4 linked regions of the Homo sapiens genome follow. The protein of the gene in region 2 interacts with the protein of the main gene of each other region in a biochemical or structural test. Each region holds a gene or a part of one and is shown on either strand. Other genes may lie near its edges. The genes, in order: L3MBTL1, ETV6, FBXL6 and FLI1.

Region 1 (7,311 bases), on a different chromosome or scaffold from region 2:
CCCCCAGTCTTTATACATGGGCTTCAGTTCCAACTCTCAGGGCCACATGGACCCAAGGTTCCATCTCCCATCATTACATGTGTAGTAAAACCCAAGTCTCTAGCAGCTGGGTCCTGTCTGTATCCAACAACCACCTCCAGGACAAGAGAGACATCAGGCCACATCTTATTGCTCTGGTTCCCTTTTTGTTTTTGACTCCTGAGGATTTCCTCTTACACGTTCAGCAATGAATTTACTTTTTTTTTTTTGAAACGGAGTCTTGCTCTGTCACCCAGGCTGGAGCGCAGTGGCAGAATCTCAGCTCACTGCAAGCTCTGCCTCCCGGGTTCATGCCATTCTCCTGTCTCAGCCTCCTGAGTAGCTGGGACTACAGGCGCCCGCCACCACGCCCGGCTAATATTTTTATAATTATAGTAGAGACAGGGTTTCACCGTGTTAGCCAGAATAGTCTCAAGCTCTTGACCTCGTGATCCACCCGCCTCGGCCTCCCAAAATGCTGGGATTACAGGCATGAACCACCGCGCCCGGCCAGCAATGAATTTACTTTCTTTCCCTGTGTGCTTGCTTGCTTCCTTTCTTGTAATATAATAGGCAGGGTTTTCTGGTGTTTGTGTTAGAAAAGGTTCCCAGCCAGGCGCGGTGGCTCATGCCTGTAATCCTAGCACTTTGGGACGCCAACGCAGGAGGATCCCTTGAGCTTAGGAGTTTGAGACCAGCCTGGACAACACAGGGAGACCCTGTCTCTATTTTATGTAACTACATTTAAAAGATAAAAATAAAAAAAGTTTTTAAAACGTTCCATACTAGCTCAGTCTGACGTTGGAACCAGAAGTGTTTTTATACATAAAGGGCACATCCTGATGATTTCCCTAAAAATCTGCAGACAGTCTCAATGGTGAATGAAACTCTATTGTAGGAACAGAATGGTGTGGGCTGCTTAGAAACAACAGTTTTCTTTTGTTTGTTTGTTTTACATACAGGGTCTTGTTCTATTGCCCAGGTTGGAGTGCAGTGGTATGATCACAGCTCACTGCAGCCTTGACTTCCTGGGCTCAAGCAATCCTCCCATCTCAGCCTCCCAAGTAGCCAGGACTATAGGCATGTGCCATCACACCCAACTAATTTTTAATTTTTTTGTAGAGACTGGAGGGGGTCTGTCATTGATACAGGAGTGGGGCAGGGAAGTGCTGGGTAGAGAAAGGCAGGGTCCCTGGTGAGGGCCCCACCCATGGACCCAGGTGAAGACAGGCACTCCTGTTTTTGTGCCCAAATGTTGCATTTTCCAAGACCACTCTGGCCCGCACACCCCCCATCTTGTGCCTATATAAACCCCAATACCCTAGTGGGCACACATACAAATGGCTGGATATGGAGAGGAACACATCAGAAGAACACACGGACGCTGACAGGCCATCAACTGCAGAAGGATGCGGATGCCTAGGGAAATTCAGCTGAGGGTGGTTGAAGGAGAGCCAGGCAACTCCAGGGGAAGACCACCTTCCCACTCCATTCCCCTTCTGTTTCCCCATACATCTGCTGAGAGCAACCTCCACCATTCAATAAAACCTTGCACTCATTCTCCAAGCCCATGTGTAATCTGATTTTTCCAGTACACTAGGGCAAGAACCCAGGATACAGAAAACTCTCTGTCCTTTCAATAAGGCAGAGGGTCTAATTGAGCTGATTAAAACGAGCTGTCTACGGACGGCTAAACTGAAGAGCACACAGTAACACACGTCTACTGAGGCTTCGGGAGCTGTAAATACTCAACCCTAGATGCTGCTGTGGGGTTGGAGCCCACGCTCCCCACTACCTGCCCGTCTGTATGCTCCCCCTAGGGTTTGAGTTGCAGGGCACTGAGGAAGCAAGCCACTCCCCCGCTGTCACACACCCTGCTAGGGGGATAAGGGAACTTTTCTTGTTTCATTACTATGTTGACCAGGCTGGTCTTGAACTCCTGGCGTCAAGCAATCCTCCCACGTTGGCATAAGTGCTGGGATTACAGGTGTGAGCCACTATGCCTGGCGTAAACAACAGTCTTCTCAGTGCTTTGACTCATCAATATTTCAAAATATTTTGGGTCCATGCTTGAGCAGGGGGTTAACATGGAGAAGACAATGGGGGCTGTGAACTTGTGAAGAGGGGGCTATCACTTGAGGGGAGGACTGGACTTGCTTACTTGCTCCTGAAGGCAGACTGGTACTGGAAGGGGAAACTCTGGCTTCATGAGGCAGAAACTTCTCCAAATCATATTAACGTGGTAGCAGCTCTTCACCCCAGGATTTGGTGATCTTGATACCTGGTTTGTTTGTTTGACCCCTGTTCAAGCCAACAAGCCAGGTATCAAGACCACAAAAATACAGTTTTTTTCTTGGGTGAGGAGAGAGATTTTTTGTTTGTTTAGACAGGATTTCTCTCTGTTGCCCAGGCTGGAGTGCAGTGGCTCACTCATGGCCCACTTCAGCCTTGAGCTCCTGGACTCAAGCGACCCTCTCACCTCAGCCTCCCTAGTAGCTAGGGAGGACTACAGTTATGCGCCACCACACCCAGCTAATTTTTTTTTTTTTTTTTTTGTAGAGACAGGATTTTGCCATGTTGCCCAGGCTGGTCTCAAACTCCTGGGCTCAAGCAATCCTCCCACCTCAGCCTCCCAAAGTGCCGGGATTACAGGCGTGAGGCACAAAAATACTGTCGATAGCCAGAAAAATAATGTCTTAGCAACTCACATCCATGTTAGTTGTTTGTTTCTAGGTCTTGCTAGCTCAAATTCCACTTATCCGTCTTAATCACCATCTAAAAGATGCCTTTGTTTTTGAGAATCCATGTGTTTGTGTAGGTTCACCACTTTCTTTTAATCTTCTGAATACCTAAAATAAACCTTTGAAATCTAGATCACGCACAGTCTAGGTTGAGATGAGAGAATACTGAGCGGATGGTTGTGTATGTATCAATGTGTAGAAAAAGGCATCCATCGTTATGGCAACCAGCATCCTTAACTGATGCAATCCTGTTCCCAATAATATGAGATGTGATTAAAAATTGACATTGCAGCAAGGAAGAACACATGCAATGCGTTGGCGTGGCAACCGGAATAGTTAAATTCTGCATAAATTTAAACCTGTCGATCACAGCAATTTGGAGAATTTGCCTACATTTCATTAGGAACCCTTTTCTCATCTGGCCTGGGAGGGAATCAGGAGCCTGGTGGTCTGACATGTGGCCATGACTTAAGGCCAAGTAAAATCAAGGGATTAAATTAAATCATTGGTGTGGGAGAGGGGCTGGATGGTGGACTGTACCAAAAGTTACCCTGTTTTCATCTGCATACCCTACATCATTTAGTCACTCAACAGATATTTATTAAGCACCCACTCTGTGCCCCGCTCTGGGCTAGGTACTAGGAATACAAAAACTAATATTTCCTACCCTCTTGGAGCTTGAAACCTCTTAGCCTCTGGAATTACTCAAATCTATGTGAAGTGCCAGCTGTGGTATGTGTAAGCGAGACAGGTATCTTGTGTTACCAGAACCAATAACAAGGAGATTTGATTAATTAGAGAGATCAGGTGGAGGCGAAGAGATCAGTCAAAGTGAAGCAGAGAGGGGCAGTGATTGCTACACCACCACAGGAACCCAAACTGAAAACGACCATACGCCATGAAGTGGGTGATAGTCTTTACCAATGTCGAAATGGAGGACCTGGGGGATACTGATGTTACCCAGCCCTTCGCAGTGGGGTCACCCAAAAGTAGACGCGGCTAATGCCGCTCTTTATGCCCGGCAGGGCCAGGACCAGAGTCCCCGCACGAGGGTTCCTCTCTCCGGTCGCACGTGCCCTTCACCCTTCCTGAGGCCGTTTTCTGACGCTCCTGAGCTCCCCTCCAGGGTGAGGGCAGGCGCGGTGGGAAGGCGTTGGACAGAGCAGACACTCGGCTGGGGTGCATGCCTGGGTGCAGCCTCGTCTTTTGTCACTAACCACTCAGCTCGGTAGCCCTCCAGGCTCTCTCTTCGAGCTCCGCGGTCCCTGCGCCCCCGCTGCGCTCTGCTAGCTGTGATGCAGGGGTTCGGGGGCAGGAAAAATCTCGACCCGCCACGCCCGTGCGGCAAACCTGTCCTAGGTTGAGGGGGCATGAGGCGCGCACAACCAGGGCCTCGAAGGCAGGCAAGAGGGCGCGGGCGCCACAGAAGCCTGGGCCTGCGCCTGGGCCGGGCAGATGTGCCCGGCGCTCGGGCCCCGCGCTCTGCGTCCTGCAGGGAGGCGGACCCGCCCCCCGAACGCGCAGGCGCGCGGCGCCCGGCTCGGACCGTAGCTAGGCGCTGGGCGGCCACCGGCTGGCCAGGCAGGTAAGCAACCAGCGGTGCGTGGGCTCAGACCTTGCGTCCCCTGGGCGCCGCGCCACCCCGCTCCGTCCAGGGCGGCGAGGGCTCAGGTCTGCGGCCCCGGCGTCTCGCTCCTTCCGAGCGCCTCCGGCGGGGGGCGCGGGCTGGGGAGGAGGTTCGGGAAAACGCCGGGGAAAGCGGTCTGGGCGGAGCGCGCAGGGGGCCAGGCGGGTGCGGGACTCCAGGCCCAGCCGACCCTGCGGCGTGGCTTCGGGCTGCGATCAGGAGGGGCGAGGAGGGTGGAGGCTGCGTGTTTGGAGATACGCAATCAATTAAGAGTTTTTTTATTAATGGAAAGGTGTGGAGGGCGGGGTTTTGGTTTTCTTGGGAAATGAATGAGTCATTTGGCAAACTTTCCTACCATTAATTTTGGATTTTTATAATGGAATATGGAATTTTTTTTGTTTCTCTCTCTTTTTTTTTTTTTGGCCATAAAGAGAAAGAATAAAAAGAATTCCGCCATTTTAGCGTTTTAAAAAGTAACCGTTCTGCGGAACTGTCGGATCAGTGACCGCCCCGCCCGCCTTTGCCTATACCAGTCCCGGGAGGCTGGTGGCGGGTCCCGATCCTGGAACCCTGCGCTCAGGGCCGCTTCCGTCCCCTCCCGAGTCCGGGAAGCAGCTGCGGCGAGGGGCGGGGCCGAGGCCCCAAGTTTGTAGCGCTCAGCCTTGCTGTGTGTTGTTTTCTGGGTAGCTGTCGAGGGCTCTACTCCCCACCCAACACCTATAGTAAGGACATTTATTGGTCGTTTTTGTATACAAGGCCTTGGAAGGCAAGGGATTGAGAAAACCTTGTCAGACATCAAGAGAAAATACCCATGGACACATTCAGCCAACAGATATTTATTGAGCATCTGCTATGTGCACGGCTCTGGGCTGGGGCTACAATGGTTGTTTTAGGTCGGGTCCCCCGAAACAGACTCCGATAGCAAGATTTGAGTGTAGGTTTATCGGAGTGCTCTTGCGAATATCACCAGTAGGGGAATGACGGGTTGGGCGGAAGAAGAAGCTGAACTGCTGATGTAGTCTCAACAGAGGCCTCAGCCTGACCTAATGGAAGCTCTGGAACTGAGATGGCCCTGCAGAGGTGTTCCAAAGTAAGGCAAGGGGGTGGGGTCTTTACACCTCATAGCAACTCGTCATTGGCTGGCGGCTTCTAGGAGAGCCTTCAAGTGAGGTAGCTCCCTAGGCTCAGAGCAGTTCCAAGAGAGGCTGACGGCAGAAGGCTGAAAACTTTCTTCAGTGTCCACCAGAAACCCAGACTCTTCTGAGTCCCCCCTCACTTCATGGCAGACTCCTTCTCAGTCCCTTTTGCTAGACCCTTTTCCTCTTCCCAACCTATAAATGTGGGTGTGCTCCAAAGTTCCCACTTTTTTCTTTATACTCAGTTATGTGGTTTTTTCTTTTTTCTTTCTTTCTCTCTCTCTCCTTCCTTCCTTCCTCCCCTCCCCTCCCCTTTCTCTCTGACAGGGTCTTGCTCTGTCGCCCAGGCTCGAGTGTAGTGGTGTGATCATAGCTCACTGCAGCCTTTACCTCCCAGGCTCAAGCAACCCTCCCACCTCAGCCTCCCCAGTAGCTGGGACCACAGGGGTGCACCACCATGTTCAGCTAATTTTTAAAATCTTTTGTTGAGGCTGAGGCCTCACTATGTTGGCCATGCTGGTCTCAAACTCCTGGGCTCAAGTGATCCTCCCACCTTGGCCTCCCAAAGTGCTAGGATTACAGGCATGAGCCACCAGGCCTCGCCCCAGTTCTGTGGTTTTAAATGCCATCTACACATGCTGGTCTTCAAATTTATACCTCCAGCCCCAACCTCATCCATTATCTCCAGAATATAAGCTTCATGAGAGCATTTTGTCATGTTTGTGACTGTAACCCCAGAGCACAGAATGGTGGTGACACCTACTTGGTCCTCCCATGCTTGCTGGAAAAGAGGCAGCGAACCCAAACAGAAACGTAGTCTTCAAATCCAGCTTCTTCAATAGACCTGAGATGTGACAGGTTTTGACACAGAGTGAAATTCTTTCAGAAGTAACCACATTCACTCTTAACTGCCAGTGTTTCAAATAAAAAGATTAACTCTATTTATTTATTTATTTATTGAGACAGGGTCTCATTTTGTCACTCAGGCTGGAGTGCAGTGGCGCGATCTTGGCTCACTGCAACCTCCACCTCCTGGGTTCAAGGGATTCTCCTGCCTCAGCCTCCTGAGTAGCTGGGATAACAGGCGTGTGCCACCATGCCCAGCTAAATTTTTGTACTTTTGGTAGAGATGGAGTTTCAACATGTTGTCCAGGCTGGTTTTGAACTCCTGGCCTCAAGTGATTGGCCTCCCAAAGTGTTGGGATTACAGGTGTGAGCCACCACGCATGGCCTGCCTGGCTAACTTTTGTACTTTTTGTAGAGATGGGGTTTCACCATGTTGCCCAGGCTGGTCTCCAACTCCTGAGCTCAAAGCGATCCACCCACCTTGGCCTCCCAAAGTGCTGGGATTATAGGCGTGAGCCACCACGTCCAGCCTAACTCTAAAGGTATTTAAAATAGTACAAGTACTTCAGCTGTGCAAAGCAAATTGGAATTGAAATTCAGGGAATTATGTTTTATAATTTTCTTTCTTTCTTTCTTTCTTTTTTTTTTTTTTTTGAGGTGGAGTCTTATTCTGTTGCCCAGGCTGGAGTGCAGTGGCATGATCTTGGCTTACCGCAACCTCCACCTCCTGGGTTCAAGCAATTCTCCTGCCTCAGCCTCCCAAATAGCTGGGATTACAGGCGCCTGCCACCACACCTGGCTATTTTTTTTTTATTTTTTTGTGTTTTTAGTAGCAATGGGGTTTCACCATGTTGGTCAGACTGGTCTTGAACTCCTGACCTCAGGTGATCTACCCACCTCGGCTTCCCAAAGTGCTGGGATTAGAGGCGTGAGCCACTGCGCC
Region 2 (7,475 bases):
TCCAGCCTGGGAGACAGAGCAAGAAAGTAAATAATGAATTACATAGGCTTAACGGTAAATTGGAAAAAATCAGAGGAAGAAAACTTAGAAAGAAATAAGTAGAAAGCGTTCAAATTGAAACAAGGCAGGTGTGGTGGCTAGCACTGTAATCTCACTTTGAAAGCTAAGACAGGAGGATTGCTTGAGAACAGGAGTTCGAGACCAGCCTGAGCTGATCTCAAAAAAAAAAAAAAGGAAATACAAGGAAATAAAACAGAGTATTTGAGATACATGGAACAATAATATATGGTCTAATACTTGTATTAAGAATAAAAAAAGGAAACAGAATGGGTGTAAAAATATTCAAACAGATAATAAATGACAATTTTCTAAAACTAATGAAAGATACCAACCCACAGATCCAATAACTGCAGCTGACATCAAGGTGAATAAATGATAAATGCAAAGAAAACCACTCCTGTGTACATCATAGTCAAAATTCTGAAAACCTAATTTAAAGAGCAGATCTTAAAAGCAGCTACAGAAAAAAGTGTACACTGTACACAGGGGCACCAAAATATGTACTACAAGTGATTTTTTAGCAAAATATGAAGTCAGAAGAGGAATGACATGTTTAAAGTGCTGAAAGAAAAGAAAATGTCAACATAAAATTTTACGTACAGTAAAAATACCCTTCAAAAGTGAACATGAACTAAAGACATTTAGAGGCAGACAAAAGCTGAGAGACTTCTCCAACAAACAGCACACAGGCTATGCTGAGTGAAGTTCTTGAGGCCAAAGGGAAGATACCAGATGGAAAACCAGATCTGCAAAAAGGAATAAAAAAGTACTAGAAAGGATAAATATCTGGGCAAATTAAAAAGAGACATACTTTAATACATTCATTATATGCATATATTTACAAATTTCTAAATACCATAAAAATACAATGTAAAATGAATTTTATAACATATAGAAGTAAAATATAACACAACAATACAGAGGATGGGAGAGGGATAAATGGAATTACATTGTAACTTTTTTACAGATTCATAAAATAGAATAATATTATTTAAAGGTAGCCTGTGATAATAACATACGCAAATTGTAATTTCTAAAGCAACCACCATATTTAACATAAAGAAGAAAATCTAAAAAGACAATCTAGTAATTTAAATGGAATATGAAAGAAAAAAATCCAATTTACCCATAAGTTCTCAGAAAACAAGGAACAGAGAAACAAGCGACAAATGGAAATGAATGAATGAGAAAAACTTCCCTCAACCACTGTTATTGAACACTGAATGGCTCTGCAAATAAGCTTTTACTACAGACTCAATAATGTTTCTTTATGAATTTAACCTAAAACTACAAGGCAAAATAGAGCTTATATGCAAAACTTAAACTGCAGTAAAATCATTTTGACACAACTAACATTGTTTGAATCACAAATAATGTCAAGCTGTTTTACACACTTCTCATGCTGTCAAAAGTTAAAACAAGAAGCAAGATCTCCATTCCAACACAAATTTGCAGCAGTTATGTTTTTCTGAACTCAAACTACAGTACCAACAGTGTTTTCTGAATTTCAATGCAAGTGCAAAGGAAATTTTCATATTTAAAATTTACTTAACTGTGCAACTGAGAAGCTTCCATTTAACCTTCAACTGGAAGTGATTAATCTGCAATGTAATGGCATGCTAAAGGGGAAATATCAAGAGAATTTATAGAATTCTAATAGAATTTTAGAAATGCCTTCTAAGCAATGAATACACTCAAGTAAAATCATGTGCTCATGGGTTGGTATCAGTATTTGGCGGTATCTGTCTGGGTAGAAAGACATTTCAAAAATGAAGTACATAAAATCTCATAAAAAATCAGCATTAATAGATGAACATCTGCAGTCAATTTTTATGAAAGAACACTTTGAACACCAAGTGAAATGTTACTTTCCCCCCAAAAGAATTCCATGCCTTTCATTATTATACCTGTATTAAAATTGCTATTATTACACTTTGAATTGACAAAATAAAAAACTGTGGACTTTTTTTTCTTCGTGTTATATAAGTATCTACCTGACATTCTCAATTTTGTCTCTTGGCCCACAAAGACTAAGGCATTTACAGCTGGGCCCTTTACAGAGATTGGCAACCCCTGGTCTAAATGTAGTTTTTGCTACAGTTGTCAACTATGTTTTTTGCTTTGGAACCACAAACATTCTACTTCAAACTACTACTTCTATGAATCACTTGTAGACGTTGAGGAGGAGTTAGGAAGAAAAGTCGAGAACTAATTTAGTCCTGGGGTTAAATAATAATTGTAGCCAACTTGAATTGAGCACATATATTGTGCAGCTCTCTGCTAAGGAGGCATTTGTATATATTTTCTTATTTAATAAGATAATCTTATGAGCTAGGTACTATTTCTCCCCATTTTACAGAAGCTTAGTGACTGTGTTGTCAGGGATCACATTGCTAAGTGATGTGGAAGACATAACCTAGCAATGGGACATCTAAACCAATGTCTGCAACATCAATTAAGAAAAGCAAAAGAGGCCGGGCGCGGTGGCTCACGCCTGTAATCCCAGCAATTTGGGAGGCCGAAGTGGGTGGATCACGAGGTCAGGAGATTGAGACCACGGTGAAACCCCGTCTCTACTAAAAATACAAAAAAGATTAGCCGGGCGCGGTGGCGGGCACCTGTAGTCCCAGCTACTCGGGAGGCTGAAGCAGGAGAATGACGTGAACCCGGGAGGCGGAGCTTCCAGTGAGCCGATATCGTACCACTGCACTCCAGCCTGGGCGACATAGCAGACTCCGTCTTAAAAAAAAAAAAAAAAAAGCAAAAGAATACAGAAAATTGTTAAAGGGGAGAAGGGGGTGGTCAAAGGCAGAGGAGTCGGTGTGGACAAGACAGAGATCTCTTGGAGAGAGGGCAGGACTACCAGTTGACAAAACCTGTTCAGGTTCCTGGAGGCTCACAACCACCAGTTCCCATCATCCCAGCAACAGCACTCTTTCCCACCCTAGCCTCGTTCGTAATGATCTGATCAATGTGTGAACAAAAATATTGTGTGTACAAGTCTCAACACATTTGATAATGTGAAGAGGTGAAGGAAAGTGGGTAGGAAAAATCTGTAGGGTGGGGAGACTCGGGGAAATGTGTCCTGGTCCAGTGCAGGTAACATATATGGGTATATATGCGTATATACATATTTATACCATATTTAATATATTACTCTATTAAGAAATTATAACAAATTTCCTTTTACATTACACATCCACATATTAAACCCCCAATATGTGCTAACAAGGTTAGAATTTAAGTATAATGATAATGTTCTCAGTTTTTTGTGGTGGACACTTTAAGAGAGTGTAAATAATAATAAAAATAATAGAGTGATCAGATCACTTGTGCTCAGGGCTAGACCCTTCAGCCCCAACGGCCTTAACCCCCCTCAACTGCTTTTCCAACCAAATATTCCTCCCCCTGCAGGATCCCAGGGCCATCCAATCAACCGGCCAATGACGGTTTCAGAGAAGCGGTCCTGGGGAGGGGTATTATCTGCAGGAACACGTCCTGCCAACTTTGTAGTCGAGTCACCTATTTCGGTTGGTAGCGGCCGCTATTTCTTTAAAAGGGCAGTGGATTTCGAAACAGGAGGGGGAGGTCAGGAAAAGGAACTCAGCTGCCTTTGATAACTGCCCTGCAGCCTTCCCTTCCCGGAGCGCGTGCTCGGCTCGGGAAGCGCCCGCGGCCGCCGCATCCCCGAGCGGGCGCGTGGCGCCACCTCTTTCCGGGGCGCCCACCTTCCCCGGGAATCCCCCCGCCCGACGGTCCCCCAGCGTCTGCGGCGCGGCCGCCCCGGCTTTGTCTCCGGCGTCGCGCTCGGGCGCCCGCTCTCCCCACATTTCCCCGTGTGCAGGCTGTAACCCGATCTCCCATTTCCTGGTGGATTCTCTTAAAGAGGCAGCGGTCGAGAAGCAGAACAAAGGCTATTGTTTTATTTCCTCCTTCGGATTCCGCGTCCTAACCGGAATGGCCCTTCATAGATAATTACTTTCGTTGCATCTGCGCTTAGTGAAACGTTTCAAAACCCTTGTGCACATCGATGTATCCAAGAGACGGAGCCAGGGGAGGTGGGAGGAGTTTAATAAAACCTGTTTTGTGGTGTCTGGGGCCACAATGTAACGTTTTTTAAAGGTGTCTTCCTTAAGCCCGGAAATTGGCTCGGCCAGCGGGAGGTCTCGCGGCGTGGAGGGCGGGCGCCCGCACCGGGGGCCGGCCTGGGGGGCTGCGCCGCTCGCCCCGCTCGCAGCCGCGGCCCCACGCGGCCCCGCTACCCGGGTTTCCTCCGCCCGCGCCCCCGCGGCCGCCCCTCCCCCGCGCAGCTTTTATTTCCCCGATGCCGGGCTGTAACCCGAGCTTTTATTTCCTGGTGGCTCCTTTAAGAGGCAGAGCTCAGTGCTGGGAATTCACGTCAGTTTCTGCACTGAAACTCTCAAGATCAATGAGCAAAGAGCTTTCTCAGTTCTGCCTTTCAGTTTCTCTCTTCCAGGAAGGAAAACATTCGAGAGAGCGAGGGAGAGCCGCGGGAGGGCGGGGGGCGGGGGCGCCGGCTGCGGGTGGGAGGAGAGACCGGGAGGCCGGCCGGGCTGCGTCCCGGGTCCCCGCGCCGCGCCGCGACCTGCAGACCCCGCCGCCGCGCTCGGGCCCGTCTCCCACGCCCCCGCCGCCCCGCGCGCCCAACTCCGCCGGCCGCCCCGCCCCGCCCCGCGCGCTCCAGACCCCCGGGGCGGCTGCCGGGAGAGATGCTGGAAGAAACTTCTTAAATGACCGCGTCTGGCTGGCCGTGGAGCCTTTCTGGGTTGGGGAGAGGAAAGGAAAGTGGAAAAAACCTGAGAACTTCCTGATCTCTCTCGCTGTGAGACATGTCTGAGACTCCTGCTCAGTGTAGCATTAAGGTAAAAATCTTCTCCCCTCCTTCTACGTGGTGGAAACCCTGAGCTGCACCGGCCAGGGCAGTCGTGCTGGGCTCCTCAGAGCAGGCTGTTGCAGTTGCTCTGTTCGCAGGAAATTATTTGGGGCGAGAGGGAAAGAGATGCAGCTCGCGGTGGCTGCTGTACCCTTTAGCGTAACCTTGCTACTCCCCCCCACCGCCGAGCCCCTGCCGGCTCCTCGGCCCCCACCCCCTTGCTTTTTGACAATGAAATGCCGGTCACAATTGGTCAGAGCAACCCGGATTGTCTCCAGAACCGTAAAACACCCCCGTAATTAGTGCGCTTAAAAAAAAAAAAAACAAAAAACAAAAAAAAAAAACCTGCTCCCTATTCCTACACCCAACATGTGACTGAAATATAACTTTTGTTCCCGAGGGGTGGTCGTCTTAGAAAAAAAGTTGTTCAGTTTCCACTGCGATAGAATCTTTTTATTTTTTTAAAGGACTCTCTGGGTCTGATCAGACAGGATTTTTTTCCCCCTCGTCTGATTGTAATTGCAAGCGCTGTCGGAGAGACAGTCCTGGTGTCAGCTTTTCCTAGGCATTGCACAATGAATTTTTTTTTAAAACCAAGGTGAATAAAGTTGCTGAATAGTTATTTTACTCCGATCCATATGAAAGTTGAGCAATCCCAAAGTAGAAAACTCCTGTGATGGAGGGAGAGGAAGAACTAAGCAACCAGGCAAAATGACCTTCTGTGTTTGACAGTGCAGAGAGGCTATCTAAGCAGCACTCTGTAAATGCAGGGCGGTAGATGTTTGTAAACACACTGCTGGGCTACCCAGTAGTTGTGTGTATGCATGTCTATATATCTGTAAAGACTGTGGTGCTGCGGTTTGTTGCTTCTAAAAAGTTGTTGTAAAGTTTGCCACCATTGGGAGGCAGGATGATTTATCCATCTACCCGTGTTATTTTTCCCATCGCTGCATTTATTGTACACTTTATTCATTTCGCTGTTCCACCAGTACCCAGGTAGAAAGCCTTCCGCTCTTGTGAGAGGCTGAAGCTGCTGAAGTTTGTTTTTGGTTTGGCCTATTTAATGTGTGTTCACTGAATGGACACTACAGCAACAATGAACAAATAACCTGTTTTCTTCGTCTGTGGGGAGTTAGAAAAACCCTTCCTGGTTTAACACTGCCTTTCAATTAGAGTCTGTGTAGGGGAAACGCAGTAGTTCATCATACGTGCTTACTAGGTTTTTTATAATTAGAATCACATTTTGGTGTTTCTTATCAGAAAAGATATTCATGGGTTTGAGGATAGGCTAATGTGAAATCAAAAGGTGGTTTGGGCTTCTTTGTTTTTGCCTCACAAAAATGCCTAATGGAACTTTTAGGCTTTTGTGTTTGTACATAACTGGAGGTAGCAGTATGTATGTCTGTGGGCATGGGGCGTGCCACACTAAAGAACTTAGGGTACTTTGATATTAATACTTCAAAACCAGTTTCTTTTGCGGTATAAATTAGATTCTACACAGAGTTCAGGAAAATCCTGCGGTATAGATAATCTAATTTATTTGACGCTTCATAACATAGAGGTAACTAAATAGTAGGATATTCAATAAATAAATTGTATTTGGCTCAGTGGCAATAAACCCGACATCAGGAAAATCTGCCAACTACAGATCAGTAACTTTAGGGCAAAAACAACAAAAAACAATGCTTTCTGTGACGTTTCTTGATCCTCTTCTATACTGCATCCCCACCGTTTTGATGGGCTTATGGTGGTGTGCTGGCTGCAGACTGCTACTGAGTGGTTTGTTTCATTGTGCTCCAGTCGGAAAAAGAGTACAACAGTCCCTTGCCTTACTCACATACAGAACCAATCCCAAGCAAAACGCGTTCTTAAATGCAACATGAAAATTGTCTGTAATTTGCATATCATTTTTTTCCTTATTGCTTACAACTCAGTTCTTTCAGGGTGCCTCTTTTCATTACTGTGTACTTCTATGTAATTAAAATAGATTTAATGTTCTTTACCAGAAAGGAAAGAATCACTTTTATTTTGGATCGTTCTTTATGGAACGAGTATGTATTTGCTTAGACTGCATGTGTCTAGGTGAACGTATGTGAAGAGTATCTTTCCATGGAGTTTGTTTAATTCAGTGTTCCAATAATAAGCACTAGAGATCAAGGACTGGGATTATTCCAGGTCATCTGAAATGTTCTGGTGATGTGTGCTGCGTTTCATTTAGTCCTTGGGATGTGGTACGGTGACTGCATAATAAAAAATGTTTGCTGGTAACCCACAAGCAAGTTGCTTGCTTCTAGAGTCCAGTAAACAATATGCTTTTCTGTGTAGTGAAGAACGAATGTCAGAGGTTTTCAAGGATGAGCTGATGAACCTGATATACCGAACTCCTGTGACACAAAAGGCTCTCACTGTGGAGAGGTTTTTCCCAGTCCTCCTCTCCACTCCTGAAACCGTCCTCACTTGCTTTCATTCCTTACAAGTAGCGGGTCAGCAGGCAGACAGTTCCTCAGCGGCTGGTGAGATG
Region 3 (7,406 bases), on a different chromosome or scaffold from region 2:
AGGGCAGGCCCCAAGCACCGGTGCTGATGGGGGTGGTGGCAAAGCGATGAGGGGAAGGGGGCAAGCATGAGACCAGGAGCCCTGTTGCCCACAGCCATGCCACCAAACCACCCACCTTGTCCCATCCTTGTCCTCATCCTCCCTCAGAAGCTTTCTTCTTTTACCAGGCGACTTCTGAAGCTCACACTCAACCTTCAGCCCCCACCCCCTAGAACCCTCAGTACCTGCAACCCCCAAAGGGAAGCAGCCGGGTCAGCTGGGCAGGGGCCCAGCCTCAGGCGGCAGCATCCTGGAAGGCTGGAGCTGGCAGTGGCCTCTGCCCTCAGAGTTGGGTGGTCCTGAGCCCCCCTGGGAGCTGGCCTGCCCCCTGATGTTTGATGGGGCCCAGACTAGAGGCTTTCCGGGTCACAGGGGCTCCTTCCTCCTCTGATGGTCCTGCCAAGACAGGAGGGAGCAGAAGTGGGGAGGAAGACCAGGCCTTCAAAGGCCCGTGTGCAGGCCAACTCAAGGACAATGAGAAAGGGCCTCCGCAGAGCGGAACCGTCGCAGACAGAGCTTGGGCAGCAGGAACAGACCCACCATCCCCAGTGCCTGCACGCTCCCTGTAGCTGCAGGGGCCCTTCTGCAGAAGTGGGGCCTCTTGCCTGGGAGAATGGGCCTTGCTGCCAGGCCCGTCATACTGATCACAGTTCGGTGTCCTGCCTCCCTGGGGTGGCGGCCCACGAGGTGAAGAAAGCCAGGCTCCTACCTTGGCGTGGTCTCTCCCAGCACTTTCTTCCAGATCCTTGCTCCCAGGCTCAGGGGCTCCTCTCAGTTAGTTCCTTTGCAGCTCCAGCTCTTTTTGTGGGAGCCCAAGAACCACCCAGCCCAGGATAGACCATGGTCAGTGCTGAGGTCCTGCTCCCTGCAGATGCCAACACATACAGGCCCAGGCTGCTCAGGGCTAGGGGCAGTGTGCCAGCAGCCCAGGGAGAAGACAGCTGTAGCCAAGTCTGCCTGAAGAAACAGTTTGGGGCCTTTGGGGGTCTGATTGCAGGAGGAGCTGTCACTGAGAGGGTGGAGGCTCAGGGGAGTGGGGTAATGCTCAGGCCAAACGGTCCCGATGGGCTAAAACCTTAAACTCTGTCTCTTCTGAGTCCCCCTCACTGAGTACCCCGGTGCCTGCACACCAACCCCCTGGTGTAAATCCCTAGCAGGATACTCCTGGGAAGCTAGCAGGCAAACAGTCACTCCAGGGCTAAGGGTGGACAGGGGGCTCGGCACATCGCAGCCCCATCCGACTAACCCTCAGCCCTTGAGAGGTGCTCGTGGAGCAGTGGCCTTGCCGGGAAGAGGCTCCTCTACTCCTCTGACCACCGAAGCTGGTAGCTCGTGTGGGCCCAGAGAGCCCAGGGCAGTTCCAAGAAGCAATGTGGGGTAGTCTGGGCTCAGAGGGCATGACTGTACAATCCGTGAGACCAGCCTGTGGTGGGTAAGGACCTGCCCAGGGCCTGGGGAGAGGCAGCCTGTTAAACAGGCCAGGCCATGGCTCTAGTTCAGGGAAGCATCCACACAGAGAGATGTGCTCAAAGAATTAATGCCAACTCATTAAATACAAATGTTTTATTACGCAAACCACATGTAGGTCCCAGGCTCAGGGGCTTACCCTACAGCCCCCACTGGTCCCTGGCTCCAAGCCTGCTCCTTGCCCTTGCCCACCCTGGAAAGCCAGGATCTCCTATGGAGTGTGTAGGTGTCCACGAGTGTACCGGTGTGCGGGCCTCCTGGGCTGCAGGCACTCAGGCATGGTGGCAGCATTGAGGGAAAGACAGGTGTTGGGGAGCGGGGTCCCCACCTGCCCAGGCTCAGGAGTCACAGGGGTCTGCACAGTCCTTTCTGCTGTGGAACACGTGATAGATGCTGGTCGGGGGGAACATAGCAACAGCGCCGAGCAGAGAGCCCACCTGGATGGCCACGCCGGCTGCCAGCAATGCCGGCCGGCCCCCGCCATGCAGCAGGGAGCTGGCTGCCACCTTCACGTAGGAGAACACGCCAAGACACAGCACCCACGACAGCACCTGAGGGGGACACAGCACCAGCTGAGCGTGAGATGTGCCTGCTCCAGGGCAACGCCCCCCCACCCCACTTCATGTCCCCCTGTGCTCACCACGAGGACCACCCCCGCCGAGGTGCCCACCAGGGGCGGGCAGGGGCTCAGGACTGCCAGCGCCATCAGGTAGCCCCCACAGAACACGCCCAGCAGAGAGAGGCCGCCCAGCCCTGCCAAGGACCTGCAGTGAGCGAGCAGAATGTCAGGGCTGACTGCGCCAGGACCTGGCTCCTAGCCCTGAGTTCCACCCGCACAGGGGCTGGGGGTCCTTGTGTACCTGCACAGCACACCCATGGCCAGGAAGCAGGCCAGGGGATTGGCAGCACTGCCCAGCACCACAGCCAGGTGGTAGGCCAGACGCCCGTAGGGTAAGCAGGAAAAGCTCTGCACGGCAGGCAGCACGCCATTGGTCAGCGCGTTGGTGGCGGCCAACAGGCCCAGCAGGCAGGCACTGCGGGCTGATAGAAGCTGATAGGCCTTAGGGTCTGGACCAGGGGTGGTGCCTGCTGCCTGGCTTGGTGGCTCTTGCAGTGGTGAGGACTCTTCCACCTCTTCCTCTGCTCCTGGGGCTCCCACCTGGAGGCCTGATCCTAACTCCCCTGTGGGTACAGATGGTGGTGGCGGCAACAGCAGCAGAAGACCCTGGAAGGCAGCAGCTGAAGCGACCAGAAGGGCAGTCAGTGCCCAGAAGAAGGTGCTGGCGGGAAAACGCTCAAGGAAGTCGAGCGGGGGGCCAGGGGTGCCGTTGATGGGGGCTGGCGGGCACTCGAGGCGGCCCACACCCTGCACTAGGGCCAGCACGCAGGGCAGCAGGGCACTCAGGCCTTGACCCAGGAAGAATGACCGTAAGAAGCGAGGTGGCAGGTGGCTCAAGAAGGGCAGGAAAGTGACATTCGAGGCACAGCATGCCAGTGCCAGCACAAAGGCCAGTGCTAAGAAGGCCACAGAATGCAACTGTCCTGCCACTGGGGCCACATGGTGCCACAGAGAGGCCAGCAGGGCTGTGCCCACCATGCCCAGCACCTGCACCACCCGGATGGGGACCTGCTCGTCCTTTCCTGGGGCCAGCCTCCTCCAGAGGGTCACCACCAGCAGACCCAGGTTCCCCAGAGCCACAAGCACAGAGACGTAAGAGGGGAGGCTCCAACCTGCAGGGAAGGGAGGAGGCCATGTCAGGGTCATGATGCCCAAGGGAGGAAGAGTGCCAAAGCCCACCTTCCTGGGCACACCTGCACCTCCTCCCACTCACCCTCTGGAAGCTCTCTGACCACCACAGGTAGCTCCACCCAGATCCCACTGACCGCAGCCCAGGAGTCTTGGGCACACCTGCACCTCCCTCCCACTCACCCTCTGGAAGCTCTTTGACCACCACAGGTAGCTCCACCCAGATCCCATTGACCGCAGCCCAGGAGCCCATGCCGAAGAGAGCCACCAGCAGGTGGGTCAGCACCGGACGGGCGGGCGTGGGTGCTGCCATTCAGCCCAAGGCTGGGCCCTTCCAGGTCAGGGCAAAGGTCACAGCCAGTTCTTTTCCCACCTAGGGCCAGACACGCTTTGGCTCTCCTGGGAAGTGAAGACTTCTTCTAGCTTGAAAGAAACAGAGAAACAGATAGGATGCAGAGCCGGAGTCAGAACAGGGTGAGACCAGGGGAACTGGGGGAGCCCCGGGCAGGAGCGCAGATGGGGAGGATTGGCTAAAACGTACCCAGCGGGACCGCCGGCAGGCAGGGAAGCAGGAAGCCGGCCCGAGTCGCTGCGGCCCCAGGGGAGGAGGCCGAAGGAGCGAGTGGAGCCCTCCTCTCCAGGGAGAGGCGGGGCTGGAGTCAACGCCACCACCACCCCAAGCCGGACGCCGGGAAAGGGCGCCTACCAGGAGGAGCCACGCACACCCCAGGGCTTCACGGTGCCCGCGACCGCAAGAGCCAAGTCAGATCCCAGGGGAGTGGCCGGGACGGCTCTGCTCGGAGGGGCGCCGCCCTCTCGGTACCGTCAGGTGGGCGACTCGGGAGCCGTCCGGTCCCTGCGCCTCCCGGTCCCGCGCCCAGTGCGCTCCCGCTCCAGTGCCGGCTTCCCGCCACGCCGGGACACCGCCGTCCGGCCCAGGGACGCCACCTCAGTCCGGAGCGCGCAGGACCCGGCAGCAGCCACGACCCGACTCACCCGTGGCGGTTCCGGGCCCGCCCCCGGCATGGCCCACGACCGGAAGTCCCGCCCCGGAAGCTGGTCGGCGGGCGGGCGGGCGTTGAGAGGAACCGGGGGGTTGTCGGTCTATAAGCCTCGCCCGTTCCGCTCCCTGGGGCTTCCCCGAGCGCCGTCGGTGGTCATGGCTGCCCCAGCCTCCCGGCAGGTCCGACGCAGAGCCCGGGCAGCGCCGCGGCCCCGCTCGGCCGAGGACTGGTGGTGGGACCGGCTGGCGCCGAGGGGCTCGGGGTACCACCTGCTGCAGTCCGACAGCATGCTGCTGGTGCTGTCCGAACCCGGCCCCGCCCGGCCCCGCGCACAGCGGCGCGCTTCCCGCCGCACTCCCCGGCAGCCGCCCCGGGGCCCCAGCGCCGCGGCCAAGCCCAAGGCCGGGCTCAGGTCCGAGGCGGCGGCCGCGCCCGCACCCGCACCGGCACCCACGCCCACGCCCGAGGAAGGGCCCGACGCGGGCTGGGGAGACCGCATTCCCTTGGAAATCCTGGTGCAGATTTTCGGGTTGTTGGTGGCGGCGGACGGCCCCATGCCCTTCCTGGGCAGGTAACGCTGGTGCCGGGCCCGCCGCCGAGCGTAGCGGCTTGGGCCAGACGTGGTCCGAGCGGTGGCCCGGGCGGGGGCGGAGGGCGAAAGCATCGGAGCGCGCACCGCTCAGTCCGAGAGCGCAGCCCCTTAGGCGCCCAGTTGGAGTCCCAGGAGCCCGGCTTTGAGCCGGGGTGTCTACTGCGCTGCGAGAGGGGGGCATCGCCTACGGAGGGGCCGGCACCCTCAGCACGCTGTCCTCCCAGGGCTGCGCGCGTGTGCCGCCGCTGGCAGGAGGCCGCTTCCCAACCCGCGCTCTGGCACACCGTGACCCTGTCGTCCCCGCTGGTCGGCCGGCCTGCCAAGGGCGGGGTCAAGGCGGAGAAGAAGCTCCTTGCTTCCCTGGAGTGGCTTATGCCCAATCGGTGAGGGGTTCCCTCTCTTCCTTACCCCTGGCTCCAGGCTCCTTCCGTCTCCCTGCACCAAGGTGTTGGGTGGGAAGGACTCGTGTGGGAACATTAGTGCAGCTCTGCCTCCGCTGTCGGCCCAGGTTTTCACAGCTCCAGAGGCTGACCCTCATCCACTGGAAGTCTCAGGTACACCCCGTGTTGAAGGTGAGAGCTCCAGGCTGTCCTGCACATCAGCTGTGACACTCTGGGACTGTTCAGTACTCTAGGAAGTGGGTCAGGCACCTTGGGGGCCCAACGCTGCTCCGTGGGGATGTCTGCCTGCCTGCCTGGTTCTCTTTTCCTGCTGTTTCCTCCAGCAGGGAGGTATCAGAGGCGGGGACACCCAAGTAGGCCTGGCATGGGCAGAAAGGAGGTCACAGCTAAGGCGGTAGAGTGGGGTTGGCACCAGCCACTTGTCTGTTTCCCTTGTGGATCTTAGCCTGTCGTCTCCCAACCCCAGCTGCCCCTCTGTCTCCCCGCAGCTGGTAGGTGAGTGCTGTCCTCGGCTCACTTTCCTCAAGCTCTCCGGCTGCCACGGTGTGACTGCTGACGCTCTGGTCATGCTAGCCAAAGCCTGCTGCCAGCTCCATAGCCTGGACCTACAGCACTCCATGGTGAGCCCTGTGTCCCAAGGGGCCCTGAAAAAACCCAGGCCGGGGTGACGGGTGCTCTTGTATTGGGGCCCCAGGTGGAGTCCACAGCTGTGGTGAGCTTCTTGGAGGAGGCAGGGTCCCGAATGCGCAAGTTGTGGCTGACCTACAGCTCCCAGACGACAGCCATCCTGGGCGCACTGCTGGTAAGTTGGCATTGGTGGGAGCAGAGGCAGATGCTGAGCTGGGGACTGCCAGGCCACTGACCCTGTGACCTACCCCCTCCCCCCATCTCTGCAGGGCAGCTGCTGCCCCCAGCTCCAGGTCCTGGAGGTGAGCACCGGCATCAACCGTAATAGCATTCCCCTTCAGCTGCCTGTCGAGGCTCTGCAGAAAGGCTGCCCTCAGCTCCAGGTACCTGGCGCCCTGCCTCTCCCACCTGTCACACCCTCCCCCATCTACAGCCTGGACCTTGCCCCCAGGTGCTGCGGCTGTTGAACCTGATGTGGCTGCCCAAGCCTCCGGGACGAGGGGTGGCTCCCGGACCAGGCTTCCCTAGCCTAGAGGAGCTCTGCCTGGCGAGCTCAACCTGCAACTTTGTGAGCAACGAGGTCCTGGGCCGCCTACTCCACGGCTCTCCCAACCTGCGCTTACTGGATCTTCGTGGCTGTGCGCGCATCACGCCGGCTGGCCTTCAGGATCTGCCATGTCGGGGTCAGCAGTCCTGGGTGGTGGCCGGGCGGGTGAGGTGTGGGGGCCCTTGTCACCTTGTAGCTTATGCTCACTCCTTTCACTGCAGAGCTGGAGCAGCTTCATCTGGGCCTGTATGGCACGTCAGACCGGCTGACTCTAGCCAAGGAGGGCAGCCCCTTTTTGACCCAGAAGTGGTGCCATACACTGCGAGAACTGGACTTGAGTGGCCAGGGGTTCAGTGAGAAGGACCTGGAGCAGGCCCTGGCTGCCTTCTTAAGCACCCCTGGGGGCTCACACCCAGCCCTGTGCTCTCTTAACCTCAGGGGCACCCGGGTCACACCAAGCACTGTCAGGTCAGCATCCCCTACCCCAGTCCCTGGAGCCAGTGTGGCTGTCACTGTGTCTGCCTGGGGCCTGGAAGTTGTGTCCTGCCTGGCCTGAGACCTCCAGGGGTCAGAGGGGCATGCATACTGTCCAAGCCCCTGCGTGGGGTGGGCCTGAGGACACCAGGGGAACTGGGCTTGGCCTTGGTGGCTATGGGTGGCAGAGCCAGGTGTCGAACACCAGCAGGCACAGCTCCCTAGCCTGGCCCAGCCCTTCTGAGGCAACAGCTCAACTTCCTGTGGTCTGCCCTCCCCACAGCTCTGTGATCAGCGGCTGCCCGGGCCTGCTCTACCTCAACCTGGAGTCCTGCCGCTGCCTTCCCCGGGGTCTGAAGCGGGCCTACCGGGGCCTGGAGGAAGTCCAGTGGTGTCTGGAGCAGCTGCTCACCAGCCCCTCACCCAGCTAGGCAGCCACAGACCTGGGACACCTCAGCCAGCTTGCCCACCCTCCACCTTTGCCCAATTTCAGATATTTGAGCATTTT
Region 4 (7,402 bases), on a different chromosome or scaffold from region 2:
GGCCCCATCCCAACGGCCCCATCTTGGATCCGCCACTGGGCGAGGGTCTGGACACCTGGCTGGTCTCCACCTCTTGTCAGCCTGCTCTCTCTGGTCAGGATTGGACTCCCTCGGGGTTTCCTCAGCGACGCCGCGTGGTCTGGGGGCTCGGAGACCCTCCTCCTCCCCAACCCGCCCGCCCCCGGCCCTCCCGCCGCCGCGGCCTCCCACGTAGCGTTCTGAACCCGCTCAGCGCTAAGGCAAGAACCAGCGTGGGGAGCGGGCCAGGCGAGCAGAGGCTCTAAATCTTCCTTCACTCTGTGAGTAGATGAAGTCTGAGAAACAAATTCAAAGCAGGCGCGCCTGCAGAGCCTTCCTGCAGAAATATTCCCCGGCATTCAAGCGCATCCAGGGGCGGCTTGAGCTGCCTTGTTTGGCTAAGGTCAGACGAGACTCGAGTTCTCCAATAAAAATAAATCTCAAATTAATTATGGCCTCGAGCGAGAGGCCAGACACTTGAAGCTGCATTTGTGCAGTCTGGAGTTTTGGCGCTTGCCCGCCCACCCCTCCGGTTTTCTCCCGCCCTCTCCTCCTCCCCCTTTGCCAGCTCGGATACCCGCTGCGGCCTCGCTGGACCAGAGGGGCATGGGAGGGGAGGACGAAGGACGGAGGGAGAGGAGCGGCCCGAGACATTCTGCCAGGCCTGGCATCCTGCGGAGTTTCAAGTGACGGAGCCACCCCTGGGTCTGTTACCCCAGGGACCAGGCTCAGATCGTCAGGTCCGCCCACCCCAAACCCAGTCTGGGGCCGAAGAAGCCCGGGAAGCCCGTGTCTGGAAAGTCTTGACCGGGTCAAAAGGGCTGACATTGAGCGAGCCAAGACACGTTTCGACCCGCCGCTCCCCTCCCGGGGGAAGCAGGACTTCCGCATCTTTGAAAATACTGTCAAGTGCGAATGGTGCGAGGCAAGTCGTCTCACCAGCGTTCCAAATGAAAATGCTCCAAATCCAAATATTTCCTGAGTATTCACGCCCATGTGCACGGTTTCTGTAAGTGACCCCAGACTTGGAAACATGTGGTGGGCTGTTTTGTTGTTGGGACATTTTTTTCTCCAGTTGGTAGCTTTTGTTTTAAATACTGGGAAGAGCTTCCTTGGCTGTGAGCTGCCTCTGACTTGAAAACCAGCCCCGAGCTGCTGGAAAGTGAGCTGTCGCCGATGGCACTCATACCAGCTCCTGTTCAGCAGCTCTGCCCAGTCTGGGAAAGGGCGAGGCCATTGGAGCCATGGTAAGCCAGGAAAGAGGGTGTGCACAAGTGTGTGGGCAGGGGCAGCCTTCCCCAAGCTGGGCCCAGAGACTAAGGAAAGAGGAAGGAGAGAAGAGAGGAGGGAGAGGAGAGGGAAGGGGAGGTCTGCCCCACTAACACAAGACAGTTTTCATTTGTAGGCCCTCACCGCAGGCTCTCTATCAATTTGTCTCAATGCAAACATTCAAAATATCCCCTTTGGCTGCTCGTGAAAACAATGTGAGCTGCCAGGATCAAACCATCTTTCCAGATGTCTGGTGGTAACCACATTAAACAGGGTAGACTTGTTTACTATTGTGCTTGGTTAGGGCGCTTCCCCCATCCCCTTTCAGGATTTAAAAAAGCAGCAGTAGCAGTGGAGTTGACCATCAAACCCTGAGTTACATAAAAGTGGGGCAAACTGACCTACGGGCATGCCAACACTGGATGGAGGAAATCCGAGATTCCCGCAGGCATCTAGTCAGAGTTAGGTGGGGTCTTCTTTCTGGGTGGAGACCTCTGTGAATGGACAGGAGCTTCTCCCAGGGGGCTGAAAATCGCCAACAACAGTGGCACCAGTGCCAGTCTGTGAGTCCCAAAGGGCCGGGGTGCCTGTGTCTATGCATCTAGTGGTGCCTGTGCCAGGCTCTCCACTACCCCCCGCCCATCTCCAAAACCATGAAATTGCCGTAGCTTTGGAGAAACAGAAAGTGCGATGGAGTTCCACAGTTAAAAACTAAAGGGCAAGTCTTCAATTTAATCTAGTTCCATATTGAATAATTCCAGTGGGGGAGGCAGCTGGTGCTGAAAGGAATTGGGGGACAGTATAGGAATGTTCGGGTGACTACTGATTAATGTAGTGAAGATGATCTGTCACTTGCCAGACCAACAGGAGTTGGAAAGAGAAACCTAGCCATGGTGTCTGCCACAGAGGGACCCTCTAAAGTGCTAGGAGGAGGGTGGGGGGCAGTCGCCACCTGTGGGATGCCATGAACAGCCTCTGCAACTGGCCAGCACCAGGAAGGGGGGCCTCCTGGTGGTGGAGTTGGAGTCCTTTCTGGCTGAATGAGGAGCAATGTGGCTGGGGTGTGCGGGTTTCTGGTGAGGTCCGGGTGGGAAGCCGTCTCTCCGCATTCTCCTGAAAGCTCTGTTGTAGTTTGAAGGTCGGTAGAGCCTGGGCTGAAAAGGAAACAATTTGGGGTTTGAAAGGATGTAATTCATTCTTCCTTTCCCGTTAACCTCTTTCCTCTCTGGAAAGCACGTGGAAACGCTGAAGGGAGGAGTGAGAGGGCAGGCAGCCTGCCGCGGGGAGGAAAGGGTTAAGCCTGATTTCTTTTAATTGAACTCCAGAACTGGTGGCCCCAGGCAAAGGGGGGGACTGACCCCGCTAGCGGTAACCAGATGTGGCGGTCCCAGGGGAGCCCCGGAGCAGACCCCTGGATTGAGAAGCAGACAGGAGCGGGGGGAGTCAGCCCGGCCCCCATCCCACCATCCACCCCACCCCCACCCCCAACACGCACACCAAGTCTCAATTGCTGGCAGGCTGCACCCGCCACTCCAGGTCTGGTCACGTTCAGACCCGTGTCTGTATTCGAACCCAAAATTGGAGCCGAATTGATGAGACTAATTTCTAGAGAGGGAGGGGGAGGGAGGGAGACGAGTGAGCTCTCGGGCTCAATTGCTCCTGAAGAAATAAAGAATTAATAAGTCACCTTTTTTCGCCTCTGTGGACACCCTTTTGAAATTTTTTCTTCCAATTGACTTGGATCTCCTCTGGATTTTTTTTCCCTCTTTCCCCCGTCGGACTCTTAAATAAAAGTGAGCAAGTCCAAAGCGTGGTCCGGAGAGCGTGGACAAGGTAACCTGTTTTGGATGTCCGGGAGAAGGGAGTCCGGCCGAAAGGGCCCAGCCCCTCGAGGCTGCTCCAACTGGGGCGCGCGGCGGCCCAGGAGGGAGGCGGGGAGGTCTCCGGGTTGGGCCGGGGAACGCCGGCCTCCAGGCTGGGTAGGGAGGACGGTCCAGAGCGCGGGCCTCCGGGTCTCACCCCGGGAAAAGTCTGGGTCTGCTCTGCGCTGTTGCGTGCTGCGCTCCTGGGACCTGCTGACTGTCCTAGAGGGAACGTCCCGCGGTAGTGTCAGTTCCCTGGGGACCAGGAAGGGCGACTCTTGCCTGGGAGTCAGTGCTTGGGCCGTCGGGTCCGGGTAAGCGCTGGGGGTTTGGCTCGAGAAGATGCGGATAGGTGGCCTAGGGCGCCGCGGATCTCCGCCCTCTGCGGGCACCGGGAGCCCAGGGTCGAGGCGCGCCGCCCCGAGGGGCCCCTTCTCCTAACAATGCGCCCGGAATGGAGTCCGCGCCCTGACAGCGCGGGTCAGCCCGAAACCGCCCAGAATCCGCTTCGATGAGTGGGTGAGCCGCTCTGGGAGTCTGCCGCGTCTCGGCAGCGGAGGGCCTGAGTGGAAAAATTCTTATTGGATGCACTTTTTAATGGTTGGTTTGCCTCGGTTTTCGTCCGAGTCTTCCCCGGCAGTAGGCGCTGGGTTACCCGCAGCCCTAGCCAACTCTCCCTCCATACCCCCCCTACCCCACCCCCAAAAAGTTTGTCTCCGGCTGGAAAAAGCATTAATGAACGTATCTGTGGGAAGAAACGGAAAGTGAATGAGTCAGGAGGGCCACCTTCGGCCAACCGCCTCAGGAAAAGCAAAGAAGCCAAAGGTCTTTGGCTTTGGATTTTGGGGGAAGGTGATGGGGGGAGGTTCAGACTTCGGGAATCAGGGCGCGGACGCTGGGCGTGGACCCCGTCATTGTTCCCGGCTAGCTCTTATCTCCCAGGAGCAAGTATCCTGTGTGCGCAGCGCATGAATGTGTCTGGGCATCTCCGCGTATATTTATATAGTGTGTGATGCGAAAAGCAGGACCAGCAGGGGAGGAAGAGGGGGTGTGGGGGGGGAGGGAAGACGAGGGAGAGCAGAGGGGAGAGAAGAGAGAGGAGAGCTCGAGGCGAGAGAGAGAGAGAGAGAGAGAGAGAGAGAGAGAGAGAGAGAGAGAGAGAGATAGGACTTCCTCCCCGATTCGCAAAGTGAAGTCACTTCCCAAAATTAGCTGAAAAAAAAGTTTCATCCGGTTAACTGTCTCTTTCGCTCCGCTACAACAACAAACGTGCACAGGGGAGTGAGGGCAGGGCGCTCGCAGGGGGCACGCAGGGAGGGCCCAGGGCGCCAGGGAGGCCGCGCCGGGCTAATCCGAAGGGGCTGCGAGGTCAGGCTGTAACCGGGTCAATGTGTGGAATATTGGGGGGCTCGGCTGCAGACTTGGCCAAATGGACGGGACTATTAAGGTAAGCGGCGGGGCAACGGACGCGGGCGGCGGGGACCGGCCGGGGAGGCGAAGCGGCGGGCGGGTAGGTGCGGGGCCCGCGTCCCGGAAGACGTGGCCTCTCTCCCTTCCCTCCGCGCCCCGGCTTCGCGCCGGCTCCTCCGGCGCTCGGGTGGCGAGTCCTACTCGCGGGCCAGCCGGCCAGGCGCCCGCATTGAGGGCGACCCTCCCCCGAAATCCCAGCCCCCAAAGTGGAGCCCCGGCCCCCCTCCCACCTCGCTGCCCGCCGGGGCTGCAGGAGGGGACGGCGGGAAACCGGGGGACCCCAGGGTACGGAACGGAGTCAAGGGCGAGAGACCTCGGGGTCCACCACTCCCACCGACACCCGGGGCTCCCGTGGCCCCAGCGCTAGGCACTGGGCTTCCTCTCCGCAGAGGCGGAACACGGCGGGGGCGGGGGCTGCAGTCGCCCGGGCTCGGGTCCCTGCCTGGTGGGCCCTGGGGTGGGTAAGTGGCCTCGTTGCACGAGGGTAGGGGTGCAAGTGAGTGTGTCGGGGGATCTATCTGAGCGGGCTCCTCCAGATGGAAGCCCCTGTTTACATGTCAGCGCTTTCCCTTCCTCTCGGCACTCAGTCGCCCGGCTCTAGGCGCTGGAGAGCCGCCGGCTCCGCGGGACTCCTGGGCCGGCCTCGCCGCCTCTCCGGCGGGGAACCTTCCCCAGCCCCCGTCCGCACAGATCCCTAGCGCCCCGAGCCCCCGCCCTTCGCGCCTAGGCGTGCGCCGGCTCCAGGACCAGGGCTCCTGGAGCTGTCGCCTCCGAAAGGGTCCTGCGTCCTTCGGAGCCGCCTCCGTTGCAGGGGCCGGCTGTGAGCCCGCGCCCCGCGCCCGCCCGGCCATTCCCACCCCAGCCGCCGCCGCCAAGCCTGGGTCTAGGTTGCAAAGTGCAACCCAGGCGGAAAGGTGAGGGTTTGGGTTCGCGTCTCACTTCAGAAAAGTTGACTGCTGTCTCTGAAAGGGTTCGCCAAGTAGGGCCAGGAGCAGAGAGGAGGGACACCCCCTAACGTGACGGGCCTTAGAGGACCTAGGGGAATGAATGGGACCAGGGGTTAGCTTCGAGGCTGCCGCGCAACACCAAGCGGGAGTCTGTCTGGAAAAACTATTAGGCTGGCGAGGTGGGGACTGGCAGAGCCCGCCATTCCCCAGAACCCGAAAGAATCGACTCCCTGCTCAGGGCTCAGCAAGAGAAGGCTAAGATGTTGGGCTCAGAGAATTCAAGAGATTTTTATCTTCTGGGTGGGGTCGTGGTTTTTATTTTCTAAGTTTTTTTTATGAAAGTTTGAAATATGCTGACTTAGGTAAAAGACACCAACCGAAGGAACTTGCAAATCTGGAGATGAGATAACTGACTGTGATGGGTTAAAGGGAGCTATAAGAGCCTATAAGAGCCTGGGTTCCTCAAACCCAAAGTGAGTAGGTGAGAAGTAGGTGAGAGGGGATTCCTGCAAAGACCCGAGAGTGGGGGTCATTGGGCCATTTTATGCCTGTTTCTCTGCTTCCTGTTGATGTGTTCATGCAAGTGTCTCTGTATTTCTGGGTTTAGTAATGAGATGCTCCCCTCTAGAAAACTCCCTCGCCCCAATCAGGACAGTTACCACTTACTCTGAAGGCCTCTTCTGATCCAGAAGGGTGGTAAGATGGCCTCAGGGTCTTGATGTGGACACCCTAAGGAAAAGTGAAGAAATATCTCCACACTGCTTAAACTCTACGCACAGGCCCTGAGCAAAAGGAGGAAGCTGTGGTCTGTGTACCCAGGATGTGCTAACCTCTTTAGATACACACAGGGATTGGCATGGCAGGCCTCGAGAACAGGCTTAGAGCAGGAACCTGACACTTCAGGCCAAGGATGGGAGTGAAAGTCCTTCCTTTTTTTGTGGGTGGTAGGAGCCATGAGCTCCTCCAAACCCTCCCTGTGAGCAACCTGTCATTCACCTAAGTTACCTGGCTAGGCTGAGTCCCCACAGAGCTACCTTCAGTCTCCAAGCATTCTGCAAGATTGAGCCTTTAGTGTGTGTGTTGGTGTTTAAGTTGTGTGAAAGCCACAGTTTTCTGTTCGCATGTGACCTCTGGATCTTGGGGTTTCCAGATCCTGTTCCCACAATAGTTCAAATACTGTGCTTGGAGAGGACAGTGGACCAGGAGAGAGGCCAGCATTCTTCTGCTCTCTTGGTGAGAATGAACCGTCCATTAAGCCTGTTTGAGATTCATAGTCATCACAAAAATGAAACAGTGGAACTAGGTTACCTCTACAGTAGTATCTAACCAATCTTCTCAGTGCCTAAAATGTGCTCATATGTGTTTACAAGAACACTTGCCTGTATGTGCACTAAATCCAGCCCTACACTGATCGAGGTTGACGACACTCTAGAGAGAATCTAATTTGTGTACACAAATCCAGGGTGTCCATTTCCAGTTTGAACTGCCTGGAAAAATCAGGTTTGAGTGATTCTAGGATGTGATTTTATGCACCTGCATAGTTCTTCCTCAAATATAAGTCATGTCTATATTTCAAAATACCTGTGGGTCTTGGCACTTAGGTGGTATTTGGTGCAGGAAGCCAGGGAAGTCTGGATTTCTTCACAGAAGCCCTTTATTTTGTGCATAATTTGCACAACTCTATGTGATTACAAAATCCCAATCTTGTTGCCCTCCTTATAAGTCCCTCCATATTATATTCTCTTCTCTTTTCCAAGAACGGCTCCTGGAAAGGCTCTGACCGTCACATTGGGAGAAGCAATATTTGCTGGAGCCACGCTACTCTTTTGTCACAGA

What was found.
Region 1: the proteins of ETV6 (region 2) and L3MBTL1 form a complex in vitro, tested with the Homo sapiens proteins (one study listed by BioGRID).
Region 3: the proteins of ETV6 (region 2) and FBXL6 form a complex in vitro, tested with the Homo sapiens proteins (one study listed by BioGRID).
Region 4: the proteins of ETV6 (region 2) and FLI1 form a complex in vitro, tested with the Homo sapiens proteins (one study listed by BioGRID).

What each region holds. Positions count from the first base shown.
Region 1 is NC_000020.11:43,503,401-43,510,711, forward strand, and holds the start of L3MBTL1 (lethal(3)malignant brain tumor-like protein 1), read left to right. Parts: upstream 1-4,296; 5' UTR 4,297-4,344; intron 4,345-7,311. UniProt on the Homo sapiens protein: Polycomb group (PcG) protein that specifically recognizes and binds mono- and dimethyllysine residues on target proteins, thereby acting as a 'reader' of a network of post-translational modifications.
Region 2 is NC_000012.12:11,645,218-11,652,692, forward strand, and holds the start of ETV6 (transcription factor ETV6), read left to right. Parts: upstream 1-4,456; 5' UTR 4,457-4,910; coding exon 4,911-4,943; intron 4,944-7,475. UniProt on the Homo sapiens protein: Transcriptional repressor; binds to the DNA sequence 5'-CCGGAAGT-3'. Plays a role in hematopoiesis and malignant transformation.
Region 3 is NC_000008.11:144,355,454-144,362,859, reverse strand, and holds the start of FBXL6 (F-box/LRR-repeat protein 6), read left to right. Parts: upstream 1-4,387; 5' UTR 4,388-4,412; coding exon 4,413-4,828; intron 4,829-5,073; coding exon 5,074-5,232; intron 5,233-5,357; coding exon 5,358-5,421; intron 5,422-5,738; coding exon 5,739-5,870; intron 5,871-5,944; coding exon 5,945-6,052; intron 6,053-6,146; coding exon 6,147-6,260; intron 6,261-6,328; coding exon 6,329-6,560; intron 6,561-6,645; coding exon 6,646-6,892; intron 6,893-7,181; coding exon 7,182-7,329; 3' UTR 7,330-7,406. Other genes in the region: SLC52A2 (solute carrier family 52, riboflavin transporter, member 2), read right to left, coding at 1,845-2,057, 2,147-2,270, 2,367-3,237, 3,437-3,566.
Region 4 is NC_000011.10:128,689,681-128,697,082, forward strand, and holds the start of FLI1 (Friend leukemia integration 1 transcription factor), read left to right. Parts: upstream 1-4,391; 5' UTR 4,392-4,578; coding exon 4,579-4,596; intron 4,597-6,232; exon of another isoform or gene 6,233-6,343; intron 6,344-6,779; exon of another isoform or gene 6,780-6,799; intron 6,800-7,402. UniProt on the Homo sapiens protein: Sequence-specific transcriptional activator. Recognizes the DNA sequence 5'-C[CA]GGAAGT-3'.